Linked DNA regions of Homo sapiens: all the other regions are linked to region 1. A link means that fine-mapping ties the variant in region 1 to the plasma level of a protein whose gene starts in the linked region. Region 1 holds a variant in brackets. A gene starts in each other region. All regions are shown on their forward strands. Distances are from middle to middle.

The links. PIP is the posterior inclusion probability: the model's chance that the variant is causal. Protein levels are from antibody-based Olink assays in UK Biobank. Linkage for the fine-mapping came from a reference panel and not from the study's own genotypes, which makes the PIPs less certain.
Region 2: it holds the start of ENO3, and the variant in region 1 is fine-mapped to the plasma level of the ENO3 protein (UK Biobank, PIP 0.96).
Region 3: it holds the start of KLK14, and the variant in region 1 is fine-mapped to the plasma level of the KLK14 protein (UK Biobank, PIP above 0.99).
Region 4: it holds the start of PLA2G1B, and the variant in region 1 is fine-mapped to the plasma level of the PLA2G1B protein (UK Biobank, PIP above 0.99).
Region 5: KLK7 starts here. The variant in region 1 is fine-mapped to the plasma level of the KLK7 protein (UK Biobank, PIP above 0.99).
Region 6: it holds the start of PLA2G2A, and the variant in region 1 is fine-mapped to the plasma level of the PLA2G2A protein (UK Biobank, PIP above 0.99).

What each region holds. Positions count from the first base shown.
Region 1 is chr12:7,482,663-7,487,610 of GRCh38, forward strand. It overlaps CD163 (CD163 molecule), which reads right to left. Exons shown (of 17, transcript NM_203416.4): 8 at 4,697-4,948; 9 at 4,232-4,324; 10 at 3,837-4,151; 11 at 2,434-2,754; 12 at 705-1,013; 13 at 304-342; 14 at 1-100. Among named protein-coding and RNA genes, the nearest start is that of CD163, 19 kb to the right of the region's middle. The variant G/A (reference allele first, on the strand shown) is at 2,511.
Region 2 is chr17:4,947,795-4,952,692 of GRCh38, forward strand. ENO3 (enolase 3) reads left to right here and starts at 3,325. Exons shown (of 12, transcript NM_053013.4): 1 at 3,325-3,388; 2 at 4,034-4,120. The coding sequence starts at 4,036. PFN1 (profilin 1) reads right to left here and starts at 736. Exons shown (of 3, transcript NM_005022.4): 1 at 469-736. The coding sequence starts at 600. RefSeq lists silencers at 6-235, 606-945, 1,076-1,325, 1,786-2,195, 2,246-2,475 and 1 more and enhancers at 1,526-1,695, 3,857-4,591.
Region 3 is chr19:51,082,502-51,087,381 of GRCh38, forward strand. It overlaps KLK14 (kallikrein related peptidase 14), which reads right to left and starts at 386. Exons shown (of 6, transcript NM_001369775.2): 1 at 221-386; 2 at 74-135. The coding sequence starts at 113. RefSeq lists a silencer at 4,091-4,385.
Region 4 is chr12:120,324,914-120,329,861 of GRCh38, forward strand. It overlaps PLA2G1B (phospholipase A2 group IB), which reads right to left and starts at 2,866. Exons shown (of 4, transcript NM_000928.3): 1 at 2,807-2,866; 2 at 948-1,107; 3 at 21-148. The coding sequence starts at 2,840. RefSeq lists an enhancer at 763-822.
Region 5 is chr19:50,982,502-50,987,317 of GRCh38, forward strand. KLK7 (kallikrein related peptidase 7) reads right to left here and starts at 1,416. Exons shown (of 6, transcript NM_005046.4): 1 at 1,350-1,416. RefSeq lists an enhancer at 1,151-1,705.
Region 6 is chr1:19,977,337-19,981,336 of GRCh38, forward strand. It overlaps PLA2G2A (phospholipase A2 group IIA), which reads right to left and starts at 2,282. Exons shown (of 5, transcript NM_001395463.1): 1 at 2,244-2,282; 2 at 1,398-1,543; 3 at 1,044-1,188; 4 at 679-785. The coding sequence starts at 1,437. RefSeq lists an enhancer at 926-1,425.

The sequences.
Region 1 (4,948 bases):
CTTCGCTTTTTAGTCAAGAAGAATAATGCGACGAAAATGGCCAACAGAACAACCCCAAGGATCCCGACTGCAATAAAGGATGACTGACGGGATGAGCGACCTAAGTAAAAGTAAATATCAAGAGATATGATCATGTCTTATCGAAAAGATCAAGGTCCCTAGTTACTGATTCTCTCTTAGGTCAAATACTTGATCCCTGAGGTAAATATCAAATCCTCAGAACGTCTGACCTAAAATTTCTAAACAAGAAAAATTCTATGTATGCAGATAATTGGTCTCATCATCATAAACTCCATGATATACCTGTTGTGGCTTTTTGTGGGGTTTTCTGCACTGAAATATCTGTAGGAGAAAAGAAAGAGAGAGGGTTAATTCTTTGCATGATATATAGAACAAGCCTTCTGATTTCCTTGTCTGACCCCTTAGTACCTCTCAACCAAGTATATGACTCTTTCCCACCTAAAACTAGAGTCCTCTAGTCTTTCTTTCTCTGCACAGGGAATATAGGTTGTATGTGTCTCCTTGGTGAAGGCCGTTGTATAACAATTGTTTTCATCATTCTTTCAGTAGAGACATTATGATTCTCTGAGAATCCCCACCAGATCCCTGTGCTGATAAATCCGGTTTTTACACAACACACATCACTGCCCAACCCCTCTTTGCTGCCAGAGATTCCAAGCTCAATCCAGGCTTCTGGCACTTACCTGTGCAATTCACTGCAGCGTCTTCCTTGTGCCCACACTCACTATGGCCCCAGCGTCTGGCAGGACAATCCCACAAGGAAGACTCATTCCCTTTGCACTTCACTTCATTGAGCCATATCGGTCCAGTCCCCTGACCAAACTCTGCTTCTTTGAATGCTTTCAAAGCTGGACCACAGCCAAGTTGTTGACACACCACCTGAGCATCGTCCAAGTCCCAAGAGTCATCACACACTGTCCCCCAGGAACCTCCATGCCAGATCTCCACACGTCCAGAACAGGAAGTGGGTCCTTCCTGAAGTCTTATCTTGTCTGAAAAATCAGAGACATGTAGCCTATTTCTAAGACTTCTAAAAGTTTCCAGGAGTTCACAGGTGAAAAGAGAGATTTGAAACTTAAAAAAAAAAAAAAACTATTTAAAATTTTACTGAATGTGCATATTAAAATTTATATATATATATGTATATATATATATATATTTTTTTTTTTTTTTTTGAGACAGAGTCTCGCTCTGTCACCCAGGCTGGAGTGCAGTGGCACAATCTCGGCTCACTGCAAGCTCCGCCTCCCAGGTTCACACCATTCTCCTGCCTCAGCCTCCCAAGTAGCTGGGACTACAGGCGCCCACCACCACACCCGGCTAATTTTTTGTATTTTTAGTAGAGACGGGGTTTCACCATGTTAGCCAGGATGGTCTCGATCTCCTGACCTCGTGATCCGCCCACCTCGGACTCCCAAAGTCCGATTACAGGCGTGAGCCACCGTGCCTGGCCTAAAATTTATATTTTTACAAAATTTATCTTTTATAAGAGGACTTGTCATTACAGCCAACTAGGTATATTCCATCCTGCACATAAGATACATAATGTGACCCAGTAAATGTTAAATGATTAAAGTTAACATTATAAATATGTGATGTCAAATTCTTTCAAATAGGCAAGATCTTGGGAAACTGGCAGGTTGTCACAAATCTCACAGTTTAAGAAGATGTAGAGGCCAGGCACAGTGGCTCACACCTGTAATCCCAGCAATTTGGGAGGCCAAGGCGGGTGGATCACCTGAGGTCAGAAGTTCAAGACCAGCCTGGCCAACATGGGGAAACCCCATCTCAACTAAAAATACAAAATTAGCTGGGCATGGTGGCTCATGCCTGTAATCCCAGCTACTCAGGAGGCTGGAGCAGGAGAATTGCTTGAACCAAGAAGGCAGAGGTTGCAGTGAGCCAAGATCACGCCATTGCACTCCAGCCTGGGGAACAAGAGCAAAACTCTGTCTCAAAAAAAAAAAAAAAAAAAACCTGTAGAATGTGGAAATACTTCAGAATTGATCTTTCTGATTTCTGACTGCTTTTCTCCTTATATTAGTGTAACAAGATAATATTTGAAAGAAAAATGGGAAGGTAAGGTAGACCATTCAACAGTCAAATATTAAACCACATATTCTCTCCTCCTCAGAGAAAGCAATTGAATAAATCTTTCAAGCAGACCATGGGGAGTATGATATTCTTTAGAATAATAATAGCTGATCCTGAATATCTACAGGCCAAATTAAATAAAACCAGTTACACTATCCAGGTAGAATAGATATTACCCACAAGTTACCCATTCTTGCTTAATTCAATCTAACAATTTAAGCCAGTGTGAGAATAGGAAAATAAAATCCAGTGTCCATTATCAGAAGATGATAGCGGGGCTGCAGAATGGAATTTTCATATAGGTCGATGGATACTCACTGTCACATGTGATCCAGGTCTCCTCCGAGGGGCTGGCCAGTCTCTTCTCCCATGGAGATGATGGGCACTGCCACAGC[G/A]TGTCAGGTCCTTTTGGACACTGAACATTGTCCACCCACATGGGAATGGACATGGCCTTGTCTAAAGATGCAGGGTTGATTTTCCCTTTGTCTGCACAGCCCAGCTGCCTGCACACCACACCCACAGTGGTTTCAGACATGCTACTCTTGCCAACAGTGCCCCAAGCTCCATTGTAAAAAACTTCCAGACGCCCTGCACAGGCCTCTCTGCTGGCTTCACTGGTCAGTCTCAGAGACATGAATTCTGCAGCGAAACATAGAATTAGTAGTTTTGCATCTTTTCTGAAGATTCAGAGACTCCTTCCCTTTACCTTGATGTAAGAATGGCTTTAAAAATAGGTACAATAGTACAATATGTCAGTTACTAATAATTCGTTAGTAACTTCTGGATGATTTCATAGATATTATTAAAATATTTTATTTATTCTATAAATACATTATAGTTTTTTGGTCTTTGGTTTTGGACTCAGAGTCCTCTTTAGATTACCCTCAATCATTCTAATAGGCTTTTTTCAGTTACATAGTTTGGATTTTTTCCCAAAAATATTCTCCTTTTTTTGCAACTGTCTTTGATAGTTAAAATTGTTAGACACTCAGGCACTAAAATCAATGTTTTGTGTACATCTCTTAAAATGACAGTTCATTTGCTGACACTTCACAGTTTTGCAGTGCATGTCTTCTACCAGATTTATGTCATTAAAATAGGAATAAATCACTTCTGAGATACAGAGTTTTTCACTTCCTTAAGTTACTGAATCATAGTTCTGTTCCCCATAATACATATGAAATAGTACATTTTTAAATTTCAGAATGTTTTCTAAAACTCACCATGTATACAAAGCAGTATGAGGGCAGTAACCTCATGCTACTTTTTGTTTCTATGACAAGTAAGTCTCATTTATCTGCCATGAAAAATTGCTTGGGCATAGTAATTATCTTTTTTTCTGTAGAATGATGCAACATATATATTTCTTCTTGTCCCTTTAAATCTACTTCTTTACTAATACTGTAATTATCAAGTGTTGCTATTGGATCGCTATCTAATATCTGGCCCCAAATATATTTATTAAAAACCTTCATTATTAACTTTGTTGTCATTTTCATGATATACAAGACCATTTCTGGTCTTTTCTCTTTACAATGTTGCACTACCTTGCTCATGAAGTACCACTAGCACATCAAACCCAGACTTCTGTTGTCCTGACTCCCACAATAGTTCCTTTTGGATCAACTTTTCAGGAAAATCTTTAAGATTAATACCCCTCACTACCCTTCCTCAGTCCTTTCTCTATGTAATTATGACCAAAGGTCATATGCATAATTTACCTGAGCAGATAACTCCCGCATCCTCCTTGTGCCTGCAATTTTGCTGCCCCCAGCCGTGTGAATGGCACTGCCAAATGCGGGATTCTTTTCCATTGCATTTCATCTCATCCAGCCAGATGGGCCCTGTTCCTTCCCCAAAATGAGCAGAACCAGTGGCATTAATGGCCTCTCCACAGCCCAGCTGTCTGCAAACCACGTGGGCATCACTCAGGTCCCAGCTGTCATCACAGATGGTGCCCCAGGAGCCCTCATGATAGATCTCTACTCTCCCAGCACAGCGACCTCCTCCATTTACCAGGCGAAGTTGACCACTCTCTGCAAAGAGAAATGAAACTATTAATAATGAGCATTCCACTTGTTATTAATATTTTCATAGATTTGTCACAGAGTCTTACCTATGCAGGCCACAGCACTTTCTTCTGGAATGGTAGGCCTTGTTGGGCCCAAAGACGATGAATTGCACGAGGACAGTGTTTGGGACTGGTTTCCTGCAAACACCAAGGTACTCAGTCATACAAGACACAAAAGGTTAGGGGAGTCAGATGAAATGTTATATGGATGAGTTGAGGACAAACATAGCTTAGAGAGAGAGGGGAAGGTGGATGGTCAACAAGTTTGAAATAAATCAGGTGCTTTGAGATGGGCTTGGCACATAGTAAGCACTGGATAACTAAGAAGTCCATCAAAATTAGGTTTGCTCACCCTCTGAAAAGACAAATGAGGTTAATATTCTGAAGCATGAATTAGTATTCATTCTTCTCATGACCCTTCAAAATGGATCACTGCGTTTTACTTTTGTTCTTCATCCCTATGTACACCTTCTCTTAAGACCCATCACTGGCTGCCCGTCATCCTCTTACCTGAGCAGATTACAGAGGCCACTTGCTCTGAAGGACATAATGAAGCACCTAGAGCAGTTACAGGACAATCTCCCATGTGCTGCTCAGTCCCAGTGCAGTGAAACATATGCCTCCAGATCTGACCATTTCCTTTTCCAAAACGTGCTCCTCCTGGGGTAGAAAGGGCAACTCCACATTTAAGCTGCTGGCAAAGAACATGGGCATCTTCTATGTCCCAGTGAGAGTTACAGAGGGATCCCCAGGCACCAAGCG
Region 2 (4,898 bases), not on the chromosome of region 1:
CAAGGGACCAAGACCACGCGCCTGGGGCTCCCTTCCGCACCAGGAGAAACAATGGTAGAGGGACGCGGGCTGGCAGCCGGACGGGGAGCTGGGGGTCCAAGGATCCCCGGGTCCCCTCTCAATCCCAATCCCCAGTAAAAACTGAGGCGCGTCCCCGCCCCGCCCTGGGAGAGGCGGAAGTGGGCCGCCGCACCGGGCGCCGCGCCCCTCCCCGCCCTGTGCCCCGGATGTAACGCCCCGTCGCGGAAAGCGGGGTAGCGGGCGGGATGGGCGCCGCCGCCTGGGGCATAGGACCTACGGGCAACTGAGGGACCCACTCACGTGCAGCCGCCATTCGCGCCGCTTCCAGGGCAAGCACCCAGTCAGGGCCTCTCGCTGCGCGCCCTAGACCGCGCCCGCCCCCACCCAAGTCCCTCCCTCAGGGTCCAAACCGGAGCAGTGCCCCGGACCGCGCAGGCCTCGCAGTACCGTGATGTTGACGAACGTTTTCCCGGGGACGGCGGCCCAGACGGAGGGCGAGTCCTTGTAGCCCACGATGGCCGCGTCCTGACAGGTCCCGTCCGCCATGAGGTTGTCGATGTAGGCGTTCCACCCGGCCATGGCGCTGCTACTGGGGCTGCTCTCGGCGCTGCTGCTGGGGCCGCGGACTGGGCTCGAGCTGCCTCGGCTGGCGGGCGGGGGGAGGCGGAGAGCTCGGGGCACGCGCTGCCGTCCGGACCGCGGCTCCGCTCGCTGTGCAGCAGCCCTCGCACCGCCACTTCCTGCTCCTCCCCCCCCCCGCCCCGCTAGATTTTTATTTGCAAAGGACGGTAGGGGCGGGGCCTACTCCCCATTCCCTCCCTCCCCCACTCGCCAGCCCAGACACCGAACTTTGCAAATGCAATTTTAAAAATCCCTCCCCCTATTGCAAAATTTGCAGAGTTCGATGGAAAGCAATGCAGAAGGATGGGGGGTGGCGGGAGAGAGGTGAAGGGTAGGGTTTGCTCCAATTTGCACTGAATATAAACCAGACTTTGGTATCGGGGCAGGGAGTGAGCCAGAAGAAGGAAGGAAGGAGAAAGCAGGAGGAATTAGCAAGCTGCAAATTTAGCAAATTAAGGAGAGTTCGGGGAGCCCAGGGTTAAACGGGATGACTCCTCCTTCCCCCACCTCCGCCGAAGGGAAGGACCGGCGGGCGGCGGCGCGTGTGCCCGCGCCTGCGCCTGCGCCGGGGCCGGGAGTGCATGGGGCGGTCGGGGCCGGAGCCGGCTGCACGGGAGCGCGCCCGGCCCGACCCGTGTGGACCCTGCGGGAAAGGAAGGCGGGCTGGGGACGTGTCTCCCGCCTGGCGGAAGGGGCGGGGGCGAAGCCGTGCGCGCTGCCGCCTCACCACCCTTGATTTTACTTATTCAAGTAATAAGAAAGCAAAGAAGAGTTTGGCCAAATCCTCTAGTCGCTCTCATAGCTGAAGGCACCCACCGGGGCCACTTCTGTCCCCAGCGTCTTCTCGGGTCGTGCAGGTTGGGTTCACCAGGGCCCATTCTCAGTCTAGAGGATTGTCCCTTCTCTGGATCGGCTCTAGCCCAGGGCCTCACCCCACATCCCAGCCCCGCCCGCCCCAGGCAGGCAATGTCTGGATCACCGGCCGTGCCCCTTGGCCTGTGTCTGCAGAGGTCACAGAGCGCGGACACCCGCGGGGCTTAACAGGCGGGGCTATTTTTCGAGGCGGAAGAATACTCAAGTTGCAAGAGTGGCAACTTTTTCAAGAAGGGGAAAGTCCCACTTCGGGCCCTTTGGGTTTCTTCGCAGTCAGATGTGCGCTCACAGCCACCTGGGGAGGGCGGGACGGGCGGGACGGCCGTGCGGCGGCCGCGGTGAAACCGCCTCCTCCGACCCGCCGCCGAGGGCTGGGCGGCTTCCGGAGCCTGGGCTAGGGGCAAGGGGTCACCGAGCGCGGCCCGGGCGGAAAGGGGGTTGGTTTTCTCTCTCCTCCCGAGCGCGGCGCGCATCCCTGGCGTCCACGCCGAATCCCACAGTCCCCGACGCCCCTCGAGTCCGTGTTCCTCGACAGCCGCGCGGCTGAGTCACTGGCGGGCTCGGGCGGGGCCGCACCCGGGCACGTGGCGGCGCTCCCCGCCCGCCATCTCCTGACCCCTGGCCCACCGCACCCCTACCCCAGGGTGGAAAAATCCCGGGAGGAGCGGCCTGAGATGAGGGGGCGGGGCGAGAGGGGAGACTGGACGGGTGGCGGGGCAGGTGGCCTGGGGTGGGGGCTGGGAGGCCGCGCGGGCCGGCGGGGCGGGGAGCAGGGGTGGGGAGAGGGCGGCGGGGGTGAGTCACCGGGCGCGCGCTGCCCCGGCGCCGACGGGAAGGGCCTCCGAGTCGGGCCGAGGCGCCGTGTGTCCCCCGCCGGTCGGCTGGTATGGCTGCAGAGGAGCTCGGGGCAGACCCCGCACTGGCCCCAGAGCCGGCAAAGTGGAGATCTCTACCGAGGGCAGAGACCTACCTCCCCGCAGTGCTACAAGTGGGGCGCCGGAAGAGCCCCAGGCGTGCAGAAGCTCACAAAAGGCCACCCGTCCTCGGTCCATTCATTTTTGTTCACTGTTGATTCAGCCCCATTCATTGATGGGCTGGGGCCGTGCGCTGAGCGCCCACAGTCGATGGGGAAAGGGGCTCTGACCGACAGTCCCCACGCCGGGCGACAAGTGCTGTCCCAGCGTTATCAGTCGGGCGCCTTGCCAGCCGAAAGGGCCTGTCTAAATTCGTTTCCTGTCCCCTAACTCATCCCGGCGCTGGCTGGCCTGGAGAGGGTAGGATGGGGCGGCGCCGAGAATGGCCGTTATGAGGACCCTAAGAGGTGAGACCCTCTCGCCTTCTGGGGTGGGGGGTCCCGTCCTTTCCCCCACTGAGGACAGAGGCCCGCCCAGCGATCTGAGCATGTGTGGACGTCAATCTTGCAGCCCCTCTTCCAGGCCCCCTCCCCAGCCTTGCAGGGCTCAGGTTACCCCTGGCCTTTCCTAAAGGTCACTCATTCCTCTTGACGTTTGCAAAAGGGGAATGTAATCCTGGGGTGGGGGGAGACCCCTCATCTGTAGCCCCTCCCTTGCTCCTCCCAAAGGGTGGAATTAGAACAGGGACTGTTATTGGGAGACAGAAAGTGGGGGATAGTAGTTGACCTTTGGTAAGGGGGCAGGTGCCCAGGGCCAGAGGCTTCTGCTTCAGGCTGTAGTGGGCACTTGGCTGCCAGCCCAGTGTGAAGGGGGGAGGATGGAGAGAAAGAGAGGCGGGGCTGGCTGGGGACCGAGTGGCTCAGGGATAAATGCGCAGCCTGAGAGGGGGTGAGCTGACACTGTCCCAGCTGCCACCTAGACTCGGAGCTCCATCCAAACCTCCAGCGAAGACATCCCAGGTCGGGTGAATCTTCCAGCCCTGGGGGTGGAGGTAGTAAAGGGTGAGCATGGTATTGGCTTGGAGGAAGTGGGGGACATTTCTGCTTTTTTTCCTCCTGGGACTGGAGATGCTTGAAAAAGCTGGGGGAAGGGGCGGCTGGAGCAAGCAGATGGGACAAACTCTGGGAACACCGAAGGATCTAGGGAAAGGAGGCTGTGAGGAGGGCAGCAGGGATGGATAGAAAAGGGCAGCTAGAGCTGGAACCTGATAGGGAATTGGGGGCCCAAGGAGATTTCGGAGCAGGAAAATGAGAACCAGAAAGGATTTGAAGGCCACCAGCCATGGAGAACAGACTGCTTGACCAGAGGGGTGGAAGGAGAAGGCCTAAGTGGAGGCTTGGGGGAGGTGGGGGCTTGGTGAGCGGTGGCATCCCAGGAGCTATAGATAAGAGGCCCCTGGATTCTTAGGATGGGAGGGTGGAATAAGAGCTGTTCTGAGTGGGGGAGGGGGCTGCGCCTGCCTCTTTGGTCTGTGACCTTTTTGTAGGGTATTTTTAGCTCCAGCACCTGCCTTCTTGGAGTGGGGAAGAATCTTAAAGGGCAAGGGATTTCTGGTTCCTTAAGAGATCAACTGTCTACACTCACTCACACCTCCTGTCCTGCAGCCATGGCCATGCAGAAAATCTTTGCCCGGGAAATCTTGGACTCCAGGGGCAACCCCACGGTGGAGGTGGACCTGCACACGGCCAAGGGTAACACAAGGCCCATTGGATAGGCTCGCCTCCGAAGACCCCAACCCTTTGGCCTTTGCCCCCCAGTTCTGTGCCATATCCTCTCCTTTCTCTCGGGTTCCCTTTCCCAGACTTCTTCCCAAGCCCCCTTCTTCCAACGTGGAACCAGAGCTGGAAGCTAGGAGAAGCAGGAGTCTCTCTCTGCACTGCCTCCTGTCCCTGAGCTCAGAGAGGACACCTCAGCCCTTTGAGAGGTAGAGAGACTCCCTGTGAGGTCCTTTTTTTTGTTTTGTTTTGTTTTGAGATGGAGTCTCGCTCTGTGGCCCGGGCTGGAGTGCAGTGGTGCAATCTCAGCTCACTGCAACCTCTGCCTCCCGGGTTTAAGTGATTCTTGTGCCTCAGCCTCCCAAGTAGCTGGGATTACAGGCCTGTGCCATCACGCCCAGCTAATTTTTTTTTTTTTTTTTTGAGATGGAGTCTCACTCTGTCGCCCAGGCTGGAGTGCAGTGGCGCGATCTAGGCTCACTGCAAGCTCCGCCTCCCGGGTTCACGCCATTCTCCTGCCTCAGCCTCCCGAGTAGCTGGGACTACAGCTAATTTTTTGTATTTTTAGTAGAGATGGGGTTTCACGGTGTCAGCCAGGATTGTCTCGATCTCCTGATCTCGTGATCCGCCCGCCTTGGCCTCCCAAAGTGCTGGGATTACAGGCGTGAGCCACCGCGCCCGGCCTCAGCTAATTTTTGTATTTTTAGCAGAGACGGTTTCGCCATGTTAGCCAGGCTGGTCTTGAACTCCTGAT
Region 3 (4,880 bases), not on the chromosome of region 1:
CCAAGGACCCATCCCCATCTCTTCTCAGAGTCTCCAGGGGACCCCCTTGTGTCATACCCAACCGTTCTCTTACCTATAGCCAGGACTTGAAGTGCTGTCAGCAGGAGGAACATTTTAGGGGCTGAGGGCCAGGTCCTGTCAAATGCAGAGAAAAAGTGAGAGAGAAGGAACCTTCAACAGAACCGGGGGCTGAGAGGCAGAGACAGCAAGGGGCACTTACCCAGAGCCCAAGACCCTCAGGGACATGAAGACACAGCAGAGAGGTAGGGACCAGAGACGAGGGGGGCGGGGCCTGCAGGCTCTGCGGGCGGCAGGTGGGAGGATGTGGAGCAGGGCACAGGTCCCTCCTTGATGTCTTGATGAAGGAAGGAGGGGAGGTGTCTCTCTTCCTAGTCACACTGGCAAAGCCTTTTATCCCTGGTAAGGACAGCTGGCCCTGCCCCCACCTCCCGCCGCCCTGCTTCTGACATTTTTTTTTTTTTATTGCCTAGTTCCCATTCCAGGACTCCCTGATCCCATCCCCTCCCTCCCCTGTCTGGCCAAAAAAGCAGCCACAATTGTTCATGAGAACCCGCCCAGGGAAGATGCTATAATCTAGAAGGAATCCTGGGAGGGGACCCCAGGGCAGGGTGGGCAGGGGAGGGTTCCCAGTTGCTGGAGGTGGTGGATCTAGTGGTGGAGTCAGGAAACCAGGGTGGGGAGTGTCAGAGGAAAGGGCACGAAGGGGCTGAGAGAGGGAGGAAGAGATGGACTGAGAGAGGGAGTCACGGGAGGAGGGAGAGAGGGAGAGAGAGAGAGAGAGAGAGAGAGACAGAGAGAGATGGAGAGAGAGAAAGACAGAGAGACACACAGACAGAGAGAGACAGAGACAGGGTGACGGGGGGGAGAGAGAGAGAGAGATGGAGAGAGAGACAGAGAGAGAGCCAGACAGAGAGACACAGAGAGAGAGAGAGAAAGAGAGAGACAGAGACAGAGTGACAGAGAGGGGGAGAGCAAGAGACAGAGAGAGACTGGGAAAATGAATGAGAAGATATGACAGTGGAGAGAGAGGAGTCCAGGAATACGAGCACAGAGGCAGGTGTGCTCATGAGAGAAGGAACTGAGGAGAGAGCTGGAGAAACCGGTGGAAGTTGGATGTGACAGGGAACAGAAGAGGCAGACGGTGGGAAAAAAACAAGACAGAGGAAGAGGGAGACACAGAGACGCAGGGAGAGAGGGGTGTGGAGAAGTGGAGATAGAAAAGCAAAAGACGGAGGGAAGAAGGTGGAGATAGAATGGAAACAGACACACAGAAAGAGAAAACAGTGGAGAGAGAGGAGAGAGGCCGAGACGCCCCCACCATGCGGCACTCACCACAAACACACACAGAACAACAGCGATGATGATGAAGGCAGTGCGGGCATGAGACGTGGAAGAGAACGGGACATGGTGGGAGAAAGAGGATGGGACAGGCAGGCCGATGGCAGAGGGGAGACGGGAAGGATGGGCACCTACAGGGGATGGGGACAATGACAGAGGAGACGGAGGCCTAGATGAGAGATGGCAGCGCCAGGGAGAGATGGAGAGGAGGGGTGGGATAGAGGACGGGCAGGAGGTGGGCGGGAGATACCTGGACCTGGAGCAGAGCTGCCCACCTTGCTTTCTCACTTTCGACTCCTGAGAGATGGGGGAGCAGAGGCCCCAGCAGGGAGCAGGAAGGTTGGTGCCAGAACTGGCATTCCCCAGCTTGGGATCTGCTAGGTGCAGAGACAAAGTGAGAGCTGGAGATGCAAAGAGAGAGTGACAGAGACCCAGAGAGGGGGACAGAGACCCAGAGGGAGAGGGAGAGAGACCCAGAAAGAGAAGGGGACAGAGATTCAGAGACAGAAGGACAGTCTTAACAGACGGGGTTGGAAATTCAAAATAGGAGACGGCAGAGAGCAGGAGAGACAGAGTGAATGAGATGGGGAAGGATTCTGGCCAGCCTGCAGGGGGGTTCTGGAGTTGGGGGGGTTCCATCCTCATTTGGGGGAGGGCCTACCCTCCTCAGCCCCTCCCCTAGCCCCTTAAATTCCCCAGTGCTTGTGTCCGTCTCTGGGCCTGGGCAGCCCCGTACCTGGACCACGTGGTGACTCAGGAGGCTGCTTGCCTCCCTTGGCTACCCCAACTGTTCCCCGGCCTCAGCCTGACTCAGCCTCCCTCCACCTCGGCACCCCCCTAGGCTGGCTCTTTGAGCTGGAGCTTGGCCTGGGTCTGTCTGTACACCTGGGGACGCACTGTCTGGGCACCTGCATCTGGAGCCACACACCCATCTCTCCCCAGGTGCCTTTCTGTGATTCCTGAACTGTTTCTGTTTAACTATGGGCCTCCCTGCTTTGAGCTGAAGGCCTTGGGAAGCCTTCCCGGCCTCCTCTGCCTTGGTTCAGGCTCGGCATCAACACAAGAACCCCCTCTTTATTTTTAAATTTTTAAATTTATTTTATTTATTTATTTATTTTATTTTTTTTTCTTTTTTTCTTTTTCTTTTTTTTTTTTTTGAGACAGAGTCTCACTCTTTAGCCCCGGCTGGAGTGCAGTGGCTCAATCTCGGCTCACTGCAACCTCTGCCTCCTGGGTTCAAGCGATTCTCCTGCCTCAGCCTCCTGAGTAGCTGGGGCTATAGGCACCCACCACCATGCCCCGCTCATTTTTTTGTATTTTTAGTAAAGACAGGGTTTCACCATGTTGGCCAGTCTGGTCTCAAACTCCTGACCTCAAATGATCCACCCTCCTTGGCCTCCCAAAGTGCAAGGATTACAGGCATGAGCCACCACACCCGTCAAGAACTCCCTCTTTTAAGAAAGGGTTCTCTTGGGACCCAGGGATGGGGTGGCAGGAGGGAGCTGCTCTGTGGTGACGAATCAGCTTTGCACTGGATGTGGCGGTGATTACACGATTCTACACATGAGATAAAGAGACACAGAAGCCCACGTGCACACACACACGTGCAAAGAAATGCGTGTGAAAAATGAACGCGCAGTGTGATCTGTAGTCTCATTAATAGTTTGGTTTCTGTGTTGATTTCCTGGTTTCCATTCTGAACGACAGTTACACAAGGTGTCGCCACGGGGAGAAGTAGGTGAGGGAGATTCCCTATGCTGTGTGTGTAGCCTCCTGTGAGTCTGTAATTATCTCAAAGGAAAAAGTTAAAAATAAAACAGAATTTCCTAGTAAACACAAGGTCTCCCTGTTCCTAAAAAGAACACCCTACTTAAGCAGAAGGCCTTGGTCAACCCCCAGGAGCCTGGGAGTGGCTCCTTCATGCCACTCTATCCCTGAGATCCAAGAGAATCCTTTCTTTAAAGGGTGGCAGGGGGGCAGGTGCTGTGGCTCACGCCTGTAATCCCAGCACTTTGGGAGGCCAAGGTGGATCACCTGAGGTTAGGAGTTCAAGACCAGCCTGGAAAACATGGTGAAACCCAATCTCTACTAAAAATACAAAAAAACTGAGCTGGGCATGGTGGTGGGTGCCTGTAGCCCCAGCTACTCAGGAGGCTGAGGCAGGAGAATCGCTTGAACCCGGGAGGCAGAGGTTGCAGTGAGCTGAGATTGTGCCACTGCACTCCAGCCTGGGTGACAGAGCGAGACTCTGTTGCAAAATAAATAAATAAACAAACAAATAAATAAAGAGGGGGTTCTTGTGTTTATGCAGAGCCTGAGCCAGGGCACAGAATGACTGGAAGGCTCCCCAAGGCCTTCAGCTCAAAGGTAGGGAGACAGCTGGAGATGCAGCTGATGAGGCCCAGTTCACCGCCGGTGGCTCCCAAGGACTTGCCGTCCCCAGCCCGGACCTCAGCACCTGCCGTGCCGTGGCCAGGTTGCTGGGCCCTCTTCCCACCACATGCTAGGTTCCCAGGGTATCTCGCTCACCACTCCACCACCTGCTTGGCACGGTCTTGTTTGCTGTGCCACGGGCATCGATAAACATCTGATGAATGAATGAACACAGAGCCTCAGTCGCTGCTCCTCTGTGAACTCACGGTCTGGTGAAACAGGCCAGCGGGGCAACAGGAAACTCCATCTGGTGTCACGTGTGCTCCCCTGGAGGAGGCTGAGGGGCTGGATGGAGCCTCAGGTGTGGGAAAGGGTTCCAGGAGGAGGGGCAGTCTTAGCAGGTTCCTGCAGATGAATAGGAGTTTGCCAGGGAGGATGGACAGTGTGTGGAGAGGGTAGGAGGGAGGTGAGTGGTTTCGAGTAGGGATGGTGGGGCAGGAGGATGGTGAGAGAGCTCAGAGCGTAGGAGAGAGGAGTGGCCAAGATGAGCAGGGCCCTGGTGCTGCAGGGGCGAGAATTTTACTCCGAGGGTGATGGGGGATGGTGGCATGATCCTGAGTAGGGGAGAGCAGAATCCTTCGGGATACTCAGGTCTGGAGCTCAGGAGAGTGATGGGGCATCACGGCACGGATGGTGCTGGATACCAGCGGTGTGGAGCCCACCTAGGGAGAGGGTATACAGTGAGAGGACCCCACTGAAGACTCACAGCTCAGGGGGTAAGAAACAGTTATGCCAGGGGTAGGAGTGATTGAAGAGCTAAGAGGGACACCAGGAGGGAGCAGTGTCAGGAAAGTTGAGAGCTTTTTTTTTTCTTTTTAAACAGGGTGTCACTCTGTTGCCCAGGCTGGAGTGCAGTGGTGCAATCACAGCTCACTGCAGCCTTGAACTCCTGGGCTCAACCATCCTCCCACCTCAGCCTCCTGAGTAGCTGGGACTACAGGCACGTGCTACCACAGTCAGTTAATTTTTGTATTTTTTTGTAGAGACAGGGTCTCACGATGTAGCCCAGGTTGGTCTCCAACTCCAGGGCTGAAGTGATTTGCCTGCCTTGGCCTCCCCAAGTGCTGGGATTACAGGTGTGAGCCACT
Region 4 (4,948 bases), 110 Mb after region 1:
CAAGGAAGGGATAAACCTACTGCTACAGGTGATTGCCGAGCCAGAGCACGAGTATGAATAGGTGTGGGTGTACGGGTTGTCCAGCAGAAATTTACAGCTGTCCAGCTTCTTGGCCTGGTCATAGCAGTTGTCATGTGTCTGGCAGCACCTGGAAAGTGGGAGGGACAGCTGAGATAGGAGTAAGTGCAGAGCAATAGGTCAGCCCTCACCTGCCCACTCTCAGGAACAGGTGGGGATGACTTCGCCAAGATGCTTCAGGAGAAATGATCCTATGGCTTGAAAAAATATAAGTCCTTTTATCATATATTTATTGAAAGCATTTTTTTTTTTTGAGACAGAGTTGCTCTGTTACCCAGGCTGGACAGCAGTGACACGACCTTGGCTCACTGAAACCTCCAACTCAGTCTCCCAAGTAGCTGGGGTTACAGGCGCTCGCCACCATGTCCGGCTAATTTTTGTATTTTTTAGTAGAGACAGGGTTTCACCATGTTGGCCAGGCTGGTCTCGAACTCCTGACCTCAAGTGATCCGCCCGCCTCGGCCTCCCAAAGTGCTGGGATTACAGGCATGAGCCACCGCGCCTGGCCTGAAAGCGATTTTTAACATGGTTGCAAGAATACAGTAAAATCCTGTATTCAGAAGGTGCAGTGACAACCACTGCTAGAAAATGACACGTGGATAGTTGCTGTGATGTTTACTGTTGCTACATTCTGCCACTGGAGGGCAGCATCGCCCACTGTTTTGCACGTCGGTCATTGTTTCCATCTCTAACGGGGTGCGTTCGCTACAGGGTCCTCTTGGAACATATTTGTTTATTTGACAAGAGGTGAAAATATGTTATCCTTAGCAGATATGCAAGTCCCCTTTGTATGCCTCGTGAGATCCTTGGCGTGTGCCCCACCCCGCCCCCGGCAGGCACTCCAATTTTCCTGCAGGCGGATCACTTACTTGTCCAGTTCATCCACGGGGGTGCCTGAGCCCCCCAAGCCACAGTAGCAGCCGTAGTTGTTGTATTCCAAGAAGGGGTCACTCCCCGGGATCACGCACTTGATCATTTTGCGGAACTGCCACACGGCCCGAGGGCTGATGCCGCTGTCGGCGGCGGCCACTGCAAGAAGACATAGCCAGAGTTCAAATCGGTCTGCCAGCACCCCGGGGACACACTGCCTTCCTGCTCCCTCGGGTCCCACGCTGCCTCCCTGACCCCTGCCAGCTGCCTCCTCTGAAGACCGTTGGACCCAGGAACCTGGTAAAGTGAAAGTGGGTAGAGGTTTTTTTTTTTTTTTAATGAAAACTTTATATATATAAAGTTTATATCTTTGTGTGTGTGTATATATATATATATCTTCTTCTTTTTCTTCTTCTTCTTCTTCTGGGACCCTACCGCCTCAGCTAGGATTACAGGCATGTGCCACCCAGCTAGGCCTGATAGTTTTTTTTTTTTTTTTGAGATGGAGTCTTGCTCTGTTGCCCAGGTTGGAGTGCAGTGACACGATTTCAGCTCACTGCAAACTCTGCTTCCCGGGTTCACGCCATTCTCCTGCCTCAGCCTCCCTAGGTCAGATAGTTTTAAACTATCTGCACTGTTTATCCAGTGAATATTTATTGAGCACTTACTATGTGCCAGGCTCTGTCCTAGGAGCTAGAGATACAGCAGTGAACAGATATAATAATAATAATAATAATAATAATAATAATAATAATAATAATAATCTCTAACCTCATGGAGCTTACAACCTAGTGGGAGAGAAAAACAATAAATAATAAATGTGATAAGGCCGGGCACGGTGGCTCATGCCTGTAATCCCAGCACTTTGGGAGGCCGAGGCAGGCGGATCACAAGGTCATGAGATCGAGACCATCCTGGCTAACACGATGAAACCCCGTCTTTATTAAAAATACAAAAAAATTAGCGGGGCGTGGTGGCAGGCGCCTTTAGTCCCAGCTACTGGGGAGGCTGAGGCGGGAGAATGGCGTGAACCCAGCAGGTGGAGCTTGCAGTGAGCCGAGATCGCACCACTGTACTCCAGCCTTGGCGACAAAGCAAGACTCTGTCTCAATAATAATAAGAATAATAATAAATGTGATAAGTAAGGAAACTGGATACTGCATTAGAAAGGGGAAGAATAGAGCAGGATGAGGAGAATCTAAAAGGGAGGTCACCCAGCCTGGCCAACATGGTGAAAACCTGTCTCTACCAAAAAAAACACACAAAAAATTAGCTGGGCATGGTGGTGTGTGCCAGCTACTTGAGAGCTACAAGTCCCAGCTACTTGAGAGGCTGAGGCAAGAGAATTATTTGAACCCAGGAGATGGAGGTTGTAGTGATCTGAGATCACGCCACCGCACTCCAGCCTGGGCGACAGAGTGAGCCCCGTCTCAAAAATAAAATAAAGTAAAATAAAAATAAAAATTAAAATAAAATAAAATAAATGGGAGATTGGCCTAACTACTTAGTTGAGTAAGGTGGGAGGATCACTTGAGCCCACGAGTTGGAAGCTGTGGTGAGCTATGATCATGCCACTGAACTCCAGCCTGGGTGATAGAGCAAGACCCTGTCTGGAAAAAAGAAAATAAAGGCAAGCTTTCTTAGCTCAGGCAATCTGAGTTCAGACTTGCAGGTTGAAAAAGTGCCAGCCTTGAGGGAACCCCAATAGAGGAGCCCTTAAGCCCCACTGGGAACCTCGAATTGAGACTGCGGGGCTGGCCATCCCTGTTTGCTGTGGCCTGTGGCCCCCATTCCAGAGGAGTGAGATCTTAGCTCACTTGGGAGAGAAAGGCGGGTGGAGCCGGGGAGACTTGCCTACCTGTGAGCAGCACAGCTAGCACAAGGAGTTTCATCTTGCAGTCAAGGTGAGAAAAGAACTGAGATGACCAGTCTCAGGTATAGTCTTATAGTCAGTCTCCACACAACCCTGCCCAGATAAGGCTGGAGTGTTTGCTTTGCTCTTGGCTGAGTTTGGGGCTGGCCTTGAATCTGTCTGTTGCAGGAATGACCCTGACGATTTGCCAGCATGGGATCACTGGAAAATATGTTATGCATTTGTCCTTAGCAACTGTTAACCAAAGGGATGGTTTCTGGAGTTTTCAGATCTTACAATCTTGACCCTCATACCCACCACTTTGTACTCAGCCCAGCTTCACGGGCTGGTTGGGGAAAGCAAAGCCGTCAGTTCAGTCGGACGCTGGGATAAGGGAGACAAGAAGGAAGTGCAGCCTGGGCAACATAGAGAGACCTCATCTCTAAAAAAAAAAATGTTAACCAGGTGTGGTGGTGGATTGCACCTGTGATCCCAGCAACTCAGGAGGCTGAGATGGGAGGATCTCTTGAGCCAGGGAGGTCAAGGCTGCAATGAACAGTGATTGAGCCTCTGCAGCAGAGTGAGACCCTATTTCAAAAAAAAAAAAAAAAAAAGAAAGAAAGAAAAAAGATCGCTGCCTGCAGCCTCAATGTCTTATCAAGTGCCTGAATCTGTGCACTGGGTCTGGTTGAATAGTCCCATCAGTCGTGCACCTTGCAGATAAAGAGACAGGTTCAGAGAGTTGCGGTAACTTGCCCAAGGTCACACAGTTGGCAAATGACAAAATAGGGCTCCAGTTTAGATCTGTCTGATTCCAAGGCAGAGGTTTTATTTTTTTCCACCACTCCGCTCTGCAGTGTGGGTTTGTGAGAAAAACCTGGGCTTTGGATTCCAAAGGCCTGAGTCTGAATTATAGAATACTAAAGGGCATTAGAACTGTCATATCAGAGGCCAGGCACGGTGGCTCATGCCTGTAATCCCAGCACTTTGGGAGGCTGAGGCTGGCAGATCACCTGAGGTGGAGAGTTCGAGACCAGCCTGACCAACATGGAATAACCCTGTCTCTACTAAAAACACAAAATTAGCCAGGCATGGTGGCTTATGCCTGTAATCCCAGCTACTCCGGAGGCCGAGGCAGGAGAATGGCTTGAACCCTGGAGGCGGAGGTTGCGGTGAGCTGAGATCACGCCATTGCACTCCAGCCTAGGGAACAAGAGCAAAACTCCATCTCAAAAAAAAACCTGTCACATCACATATCTATTTATTTATATATATTTTTTGAGACGGAGTCTTGCTCTGTTGCCTAGGCTGGAGTGCAATGGCGCGATCTTGGCTCACTGCAAGCTCTGCCTCCCAGGTTCATGCCATTCTCCTGCCTCAGCCTCCCAAGTAGCTGGGACTACAGGCACCCACCACCACGCCCGGTTAATTTTTTTTTTTGTATTTTTAGTAGAGATGGGGTTTCACCGCATTAGCCAGGATGGTCTCGATCTCCTGACCTCGTGATCCACCTGCCTCGGCCTCCCAAAATGCTGGGATTACAGGCGTGAGCCACCGCGCCCGGCCAAATATCTACATAACATTGTTTAGCTGAAATTCACATAACATTAACCACGTTTAAGTAAACAATTCGGGGGCATTTAGTACCTTCACAGTGTTGTGCAACCATCACCTCTATGGGGTTCCAGAACATTTTTATCACTCCAGAAGGAAACCCTGTACCCATTAGCAGTCACACTCCCTCAGCCCCTGGTAACTGCTAATCTGCTTCTCTCTCTCTCTCTCTTTTTTTTTTGAGACAGAGTTTCGCTCTTGTCGCCCAGGCTGGAGTGCAATGGCACGATCTCGGCTTACTGCAACCTCCGCCTCCCAGGTTCAAGCGATTCTCCTGCCTCAGCCTCTCGTGTAGCTGGGAATTACAGGCGCCTGCCAGCATGCCTGGATAATTTTTGTATTTTTAGTAGAGACAAGGTTTCACCATGTTGGTCAGGCTGGTCTCAAACTCTTGACCTCAGGTGATCCACTCCTCAGCCTCCCAAAATGCTGGGATTATAGGCATGAGCCACTGTGCCTGGCCTCTGATCTGCTTCTCTCTATATAGATTTATAATTGGTTAACTTGGTGCTCTTCTGTTCCTATGTCACCTCT
Region 5 (4,816 bases), not on the chromosome of region 1:
CCCAGGGGTCCAGGCCCCAGCCCCTCCCCCCACAGACCCAGGAGTCCAGGCCCCAGCCCCTCCTCCCTCAGACCCAGGGGTCCAGGCCCCAGCCCCTCCTCCCTCAGACCTAGGGGTCCAGAACCCCAGCCCCTCCTCCCTCAGACCCAGAAATTCCTTTCTCTGGCCTCTCCTTCCTTACACTCAGAAGTCCAGACCCCTAACCTCCTCCTCCCTCATACCCAAGAGTCCAGACCCTAGCACCTTCCTCCCTCAGACCCAGGAGTCCAGGCCCCCAGCCCCTCCTCCCTCAGACCTAGGAGTCCAGGCCCCCAGCTCCTCCTCCCTCAGACCTAGGAGTCCAGGTCCAAGTCCCTCCTCCCTCAGGCTCAGGAGTCCAGGCCCCAACCCCTCCTCCCTCAGACCCAGGAGTCCAGGCCCCCAGCCCCGCCTCCCTCAGACCTAGGAGTCCAGGCCCCCAGCTCCTCCTCCCTCAGACCTAGGAGTCCAGGTCCAAGTCCCTCCTCCCTCAGGCTCAGGAGTCCAGGCCCCAACCCCTCCTCCCTCAGACCCAGGAGTCCAGGCCCCAGCCCCTCCTCCCTCAGACCCAGGAGTCCAGGCCCCCAGCTCCTCCTCCCTCAGACCCAGGAGTCCAGGTCCCAGTCCCTCCTCCCTCAGACCTAGGAGTCCAGGTCTCAGTCCCTCCTCCCTCAGGCCCAGGAGTCCAGGCCCCAGCCCCTCCTCCCTCAGACCCAGGAGTCCAGGCCCCAGCCCCTCCTCCCTCAGACCCAGGAGTCCAGGCCCCAGCCCCTCCTCCCTCAGACCCAGGAGTCCAGGCCCCAGCCCCTCCTCCCTCAGACCCAGGAGTCCAGGCCCCAGCCCCTCCTCCCTCAGACCCAGGAGTCCAGGCCCCAGCTCCTCCTCCCTCAGACCTAGGAGTCCAGGTCCCAGCCCCTCCTCCCTCAGACCCAGGAGTCCAGGCCCCCAGCCCCTCCTCCCTCAGACCCAGGAGTCGAGACCCCCAGCCCCTCCTCCCTCAGACCCAGGAGTCCAGGCCCCCAGGCCCTCCTCCCTCAGACCCAGGAGTCCAGAACCCCAGCCCCTCCTCCCTCAGACCCAAAATTCCTGTTCTTCAGATCCCTAGAGACCCAGGAATCTAGGCTCCGATCTTGCCCTTCCCTGTGGAACCCAAACTTCTGACTCTGTAGTTCGTTTTTCCCTAAAAGGCCCCAAATTGCAGACTTCCAGGCCCTCACTGCTCAGGACCGGGAGTCTAGGCTGCAGCCCCTACCTCTCGAGAGCAGAGTCAGGCTTGGAGCCAGCATCACCCTCTCCCCTACAGGTGCACCCTTGATGAAGCCTCTTCTCACCTCGAGAGGATCTGATGTGATCCAAGTTCCGACTTGGGCTGGCACACAGCTGGGCTCCAAAATCTTCATCCCTCTGCTGGGCCGTCCTCTTATATCACCCCCCGCCCCATGCCCGGCCCCAGCGCCCTGGGGTGCAGGCGGAGCCGACTCTGGGACACCCCCGCCTGCATTTGCGGTTCTGGTTATCTGGAACCCTGACGCAGCGAGAGCAATTGGCACCACTGCACTCTCTCTCCACCCTCCCTCCGAAGGACGGGCGGTGCCCAGCTCCTGCGCCCCCGCACATTCTGGTCCCACAGTCCCTCCTGGCTGCTCTCGGGGGAGGGACCCGGTGCGCTGGGTCTGAGGGGCAGGAGCGGGATTCAAGCAGTCGCTGAGCTCAGAGAATAGGCTCTGGCTCGGGTCCTTCTCTGGGGCGGTTTTCTTTCTTTCTTCCCTCCTCCCTCCCTCCCTTCCTTTCTTTTTTTTGGATGGAGTCTCTCTCTATCGCCAGGCTGGAGTGCGGTGGCGCGATCTCGGCTCACTGCCAGCTCCGCCTCCCAGGTTCAAGTGATTCTCCTGCCTCAGCCTCCCGAGTACCTGGGATTACAGGCACGCACCACCACTCCCAGCTAATTTTTGTATTTTTAGTAGAGACCGGGTTTCACTATGTTGGCCAGAATGGTCTCGATCTCCTGACCTCATGATGTGCCCGCCTCGGCCCCGCAAAGTGCTGGGATTACAGGCGTGAGCCACTGCGCCCGGCTTCTGGGGCCATTTTCTTGCCCTCACCCCCTCTCAGGGGTGGCCTAGACCCTACATCCTAATTCTGGCCCGCCTGGGGGAACTTGTCCAAGCTGATCCCAGTCGTGCCTGTAATTACGCCTGAACCCATTCCCAACTCTAACAGAGAGGTGTAAGTTAAAAACAACGCTTTCCCTAACCCCACCCCACTAATATTTGCCATGTTTAGGATCTATGTTCTTATGGTCATTTTAATCATGTTATACATAGATTTCTTTGTATATTATGTATTTATAACAAAAATGTCTGTACTTAACATTATCTAATAGAACATTTTTGAGGGCTTCATTTATTAATTTATAAGCAAATATTTATTTTTCTTTTTTTAACTTTTCAGTTCGGGGGTACATGTGCAGGATGTGCAGGTTTGTTGCGTAGGTGAACGTGCGCCATGGGGGTTTGTTATACAGATTATTTAATCACCCAGGTATTAAGCCTAGTACCCATTAGTTATTTTTTTCTGATCCTCTCCTTCCTCCCACTCTCCACCCTCTCATAAGCCCCAGTGTGTGTACCCAAAGGAATATAAATCATTCTGTTTAAAGACACATGGACACGTACGTTCATTGTAGAACTATTGACAACAGCAAACACAGGGAATCAACCTAAATGTCCATCAGTGATAGACTGGATTAAGAAAATGTGGTACGTATACACAATTGAATACTACGTAGCCATAAAAAAGAACACGATCATGTCCTTTGTAGGGACGTGAATGGAGCTGGAGGCCATTACCCTTACAAACTAAAGCAGGAACAGAAAACCAGATATGGCATGTTCCTACTTACAAGTGGTAGCTAAATGATGAGACTGCATGGACACATAGAGGAGAGAAGAATCTTTCTTATTTTTTTTTTTTTTTGATGGACTCTGGCTCTGTCACCCAGGCTGGAGTGCAATGGCACGATCTCGGCTCACTGCAACCTCCACTCCCCCGTGTTCAAGTGATTCTCCTGCCTCAGAGTCCTGAGTAGCTGGATTACAGGCGTGCACCACCATGCCCAACTAATTTTTGTATTTTTAGTAGAGATGGGGTTTCACCATGTTGGTCAGGCTGCTCTCCAACTCCTGACCTCAGGTGATCCACCGGCCTCGGCCTCCCAAAGTACTGCGATTATAGGCCTGAGCCACCGCGCCCAGCCAAGGATTTTTGCTAAATGAGTAGATTATAGCTGCTCTTGCCACAGGGGAGGAAAATGGGTAACTATGTGAGATGATGGACATGTTCATTTGTTCAGCTATAGTAATCATTGTCCTATGTATATACATCGCATATGATCATATTGTACACTTTAAATATACACAATAACATTTATTTTTTAAAAAGAGGAAAACTTTTCCCTCTTTGTACATTTAGATTACTTTTCCTTCCTTTATAATGGTTGTGTAATATTCCATACTATACTTGTATCATGATGCATGTCATCTGCCTCAAATTGAAATACACTTGGATAGTTTTAATTATAATAATGCTGAGATGAACTTCTTTGTACATTCATCTTTGTTCATTGTAGTCATTCAAACAGCATCCATTGAGCATCTACTCTGTGCCAGAAACTATTCAGGCTCTTGGAGACACAGCAGTGATAAAACAGAGAAAAATTTCTGTCTTCATAGAGGTTTTTGTTTTGTACTGTCAGGTCAGCACAAAAATAAGCAAATAAAATGTAGAGTTTGTTAGGTGGTTGTAAGCGCTATAAGGGAAAATCCAAGCAAGGAAGAGGGTTGGGGAGTTACTGATTCCCTCTACCCTCGAGGATCCCTGAGGTTATAATATCAGGAAGGTTGGCTGCAAAGACCCCACGTGAAGGTGATATTTGAGCAAAGTCTTGAAGGAGATGGTGGAGGGATCCAGGTGGCTGCTTGAAGGTAGTGAGTTCCAGGCAAAGCGAGCAGGCAGGTGTGTTAGCCAAGGAGCATATCTGAAGTGCCTCAGCAGACAAATCACTGCGACCAATACAGAGTGACCAAAGGAGATGAGGGCAGGTGATGAGGCCAGAAATATAACAGGACTCTGATGACATGCGGTCTGAAAGGTCTTTGGCTTTTATTTTGAGTAAGACAGGAACCATTGTTGGACACACTTCTAAAGTTGGAATTGACCTCAACCTCTAAATTATATCCCCAAAATGGGATTTATTTCTCCACCCTGGACCTAAAACTTATCTCAATCCTGACCCCAACTCAATTCTTTTTTTTGCTTTGTTTTGTTTTGTTTTTGTTTTTGAGATGGAGTTTTGATCTTATTGCCCAGGCTGGAGTGCAGTGGTGCGATCTCAGCTCACTGCAATCTCCGCCTTCCAGGTTCAAGCAATTCTCCTGACTCAGCCTCCCGAGTAGCTGGGATTACAGGCATGTACCATCACACTTGGCTAATTTTTTTTTTTTTTTTTTTTAGTAGAGATGGGGTTTCTCCATGTAGGTCAGGCTGGTCCCTAACTCCCGACCTCAGGTGATCTGCCTTCCTCAGCCTCCCAAAGTGCTGGGATTACATGTGTGAGCCACCACGCCTGGCACCCCAACTCGATTCTACATTTGACCCATAATAGTAGACATTATTGTTGTGTCCCCAGGCATTCACTCCTTCTGCCTTTCTATCAGAGGCTCCATTTTGTTTGGATAATACTTTATCCTCATCAGGACTATAAGCCTCAATGAACCAAGCATTGAAGCCATATTTCGTT
Region 6 (4,000 bases), not on the chromosome of region 1:
ATTCCATCTCAAATGCATCTTGATTTTTTCTCCACCTTTCCCATCCTGACCTCCATTGTTTTATGTCAAGATGTTACTCCCTCTTGCCTGCATGATGGCAATAGCTTTCTCTGCCCCCCTTCCACTTGTCTCCATCGACCCTGTCCCCACAGTGAGTCATCTAAAATGCAAATCTGACCCTGTAGCTCCTTTGCTTAATAGCATCCTATTGCTTTAGGGCAAAACCTAAATACAGCCCGGCCTGGAGGGCCGGATTGACCTAGCTCCTTCCTATGTCTCCAGCATCATGGCTCAGCACTGCTCCTCTTCCTCATGTTTCTGCTGGGCAGTACAGAATGGCTTACAGTGCCCTTTAGTGCCTTTGACCATGCTGTGTCCTCTTCTGGGAATGCTCCCTCCTCTTCCCTGACTCTCTGCACAGCCTTTCAGACTCAGCTTAGGGGTCACCCCTTCCAGGAGCCTTCCTCAAGCCTCAGGCTGTGTTAATGCCTTATCTGTTTGTTTACTTCCCACTGGAGTCTTTACTACATTGGATTTTCACTTTCCTGGCTTCCCACTCAACCGTGAGCTTCCTGAAGCAGGAACTGTGTCCCTCTGTGTCTATCTTTGGTGCCCAGCACAGTCCCCAGCACTGTCTAAACAAATGAGGGCCACTCGATGGTGAGGTAGGACTCTTACCACAGGTGATTCTGCTCCCCGAGTTGCTAAACTTGTAGCTCAGAAATTTGGTGCCACATCCACGTTTCTCCAGACGTTTGTAGCAACAGTCATGAGTGACACAGCAGCTGTGAGGAGACACCCTGTTGGGGCTCTTGTCCCACAGCTCCAGGAGGCCTGGTGCCTGTGGTCTCACCCCCTTGGACCCTGGGCAGAGACCCAGTGACTTTGCAACAGTCTAGAGCAGAAGTTCCAACATGCCGGCTGCTTTTCCAGCCAGGCCATCCTGAGACCTCTGCGCCCATCAGGAACCGGCACTGTCTTTGCAGCTCCCAGCCCTGCCTGGGCCAGAGTCTAGGAGGGTAGGGAGGGATAGGTGGCCTCACCGATCCGTTGCATCCTTGGGGGATCCTCTGCCACCCACGCCACAGTGGCAGCCGTAGAAGCCATAACTGAGTGCGGCTTCCTTTCCTGTCGTCAACTTGATCATTCTGTGGAAATTCACCAAATTCCCATGGGCCTGCAGTAGGCCTGGAAGGAAATTTGGGAGTTGTCTGGTGATGGGGCATGGGGTTCTGCGCCCTCCCTCTCTGCCCCTCTCTGCTACTCTCCTTCCTCCCAAATGGCTTCTTTTTTCCCCCTGAGAGAGGATCACTGCAATGGGAGAGAAAACTAAGGGACAAGAGTGCTTCCCTTCTGGGGCTGTCCCCCCATGCTCAGAGGTCAGGGTCAGCTCTTACCAAAGATCATGATCACTGCCAACAGTAGGAGGGTCTTCATGGTAAGAGTTCTTGGGTGACAAATGCAGATGGACTGGCCTAGCTCCTCTGCTGGGTGGTCTCAACTTCTGCCCCGGCCGTCGCTCCCCTGCTCCTCCTTGGTGGCTCTGAGACACACAGACATGCTCTCCCATCCAACCTAAGTCCAGGGTGACTTCCTCTGTCACACTCAGAGCACACAAGGAGTGCCCTCCAGCAATGCACACACACACACACACACACACACACAACCACCTCCTGACCCGTTCCCAGCTCTGCAGAATGGTTTCACACACATCAGGCCCTCAGACCTGTGGAGAACCCCATGATACACTAATGAGACCTCCCCTGTACCTCATCAGACTGAGAGTTCTTGGGAGGTTGGAACCAGGTTCCTCCCAACTACCTGGGAGGTTCCTGAGGTCAGAGGATGTGTCCCTCGCTAGACATAGCTTGCATATCCCCACACTGGATTCAAGGCTTGGAGTCTCCAAGGCACCCATGGAGGCTCGGCCTCAGTATTTTCCTCCAGAATGAAAGCATCAACCTCTCTCTTCTAGGCCTTCTAACCCCTTCCACATACACAAGTTCCCAAACACATACATGTTAACACACCTATGCCCACATACACACACTCTCGTACTTACCTGATAGTGCCAACATCCTCTCTTACACTACACTCACATACTCACTCAACACACTCATGCACACACACCCTCTCATACATATCAAATCATGCACATGCATGCACAACACAGCCACTCTCAAAGGCAGCGAATGAGCAGGAATTCTGCTCTTGACAGGACATCAGCTTCGCTGGCTCTTTACCTCTCAGAGGACTCCAGAGTTGTATCCCCAGGCCGTCTTGTTTGTTCTGCACTCCTGCTCCCCTTAAATAGCTGCTCCCTCTGGGAGGTTGGGGGTAGGTGAGGCACAAGGCTGGGGATGGGCGTGGTCAGTTGGTGGACTCAGGATTGGTCGCCCATACCCCTAGGTAATCCCTTTCCTTCCCCTCATCAGCTGGCAGGACAGAGTTGAGGATTGGGAAACCTTACGTGTCAGTAGCTGATGCCAAAACACATTTCAGGCAGTTTTGCAGTCTTTCCATGGAGTAAATTCCCATAACCAGCTCTGGGTGTGATCAACGGTCAGCCACCTCCCTGCAATCGCCTCTAAGGGGGGCAGAGACTGTCTGCTGTTGCAGGCTGTGGACTCATTTGCACACCCAAAGGGACTACCAATTGCTGAGCAAGGATTGCTCCCTTCTGCTCAATGTGGCATTTGGGAATAGAAAAGAGGGCTTTTAGTGGTACTCATTCATTCAGCCGCTCAATCATTCATTCACAGGAAGTATGTCCTGGGCCTCTACCATGTTCCAGCACCTGTGCAGGCCTCACGTGTGCACCCCACAGTCCACCAGGGAGAGAGTTTAATGGGGGTGGATTTCCCTTCCCACTAACTTGGGCCAGGGCCTCAACTTTCTCTTCTTATTCTTCTTTCTTCTTTTCCTCCACCCCTGTCTCATATGAGCTTCTAAACCTGGAAAAAGCCAGAGGCTATCCTTGAAGTTCCCACCAAAGCACTGCCTTCACTTTATTCCCCATCCTCACCTGTTTGGAGACAGGGCAGGTGAATGCTCCCTGGATCTGTTGCTCTTTTTCCTTCAGCCTTCGGGCTGACACTGACTCCAGCTTTAATTCATAAAGTAAATATCTTTTTCATTGCTCTCCAGCACATGCTAAGAATTTAGCTTCCACCGCCTTAAGTAAACACTCTGCGATACCAGTCCTAAAAAAGTCACTGTGGCAGGGGCTGTGGTGCTTGTGAACATTCCATCTGTTCCCTACACTCTAGAGCCCCTTGCAGGGATGGAGACCTAGGGCCCTGCTGCTGACTGGTAAAACATGAGCACTGGTATGAAGGGTCACTTCCAGGTTTCTCCAGCAAGGGGACTATGAGATGCAACTCCCCAGCCCTTCCCTGCCCCACTGGTAGAACCAGAAGATGAAAGCAATCTGGGGTGTAAGAATCATGGCACGGAAGACAGTTGTCCTAGAAAGTCCTGCAGCTCACAGGGGTCTTAGTGTGAGTGAGAAATAGACTTTTGTTGTATTAAGCTGATGATAATTGAGATGGGCAGTTGCTGGAGCATAACCTAATCTATCCCAAGAGCCATCAAACAGCTTTCCTCTCGAGAATACCATTTACCTCCAGTGCTCGACTGTGTAAGGGGTTGGACTGTGGTCCTCCTTCCTGCTCTCAGTTCCTGTGTTGGAGTCCCGGTACCTTAGAATGTGATCTTATTTAAAAATAGGGTCATTGCAGATATAATTAGTTAAGAGGAGATCACTAGGGCAGCTAGGATGGGCCCTAATCCAAGATGACAGATGTCATTACAAAAATGGGAAATTTGGAGACAGGCAGGCACACTGGGAGAAGGCCATACAAAGATGAAGGCAGAGATCAGGGTGAAGCTTCTACAAGCCAAGGAATGGCAAAGATTACCAGAAAACACTGGAAGCTAGGAGAGAGGGATGGAGCAGATTCTCCCTCACAGCCCTCAGAAGGAATCAACCCTGTTGGGC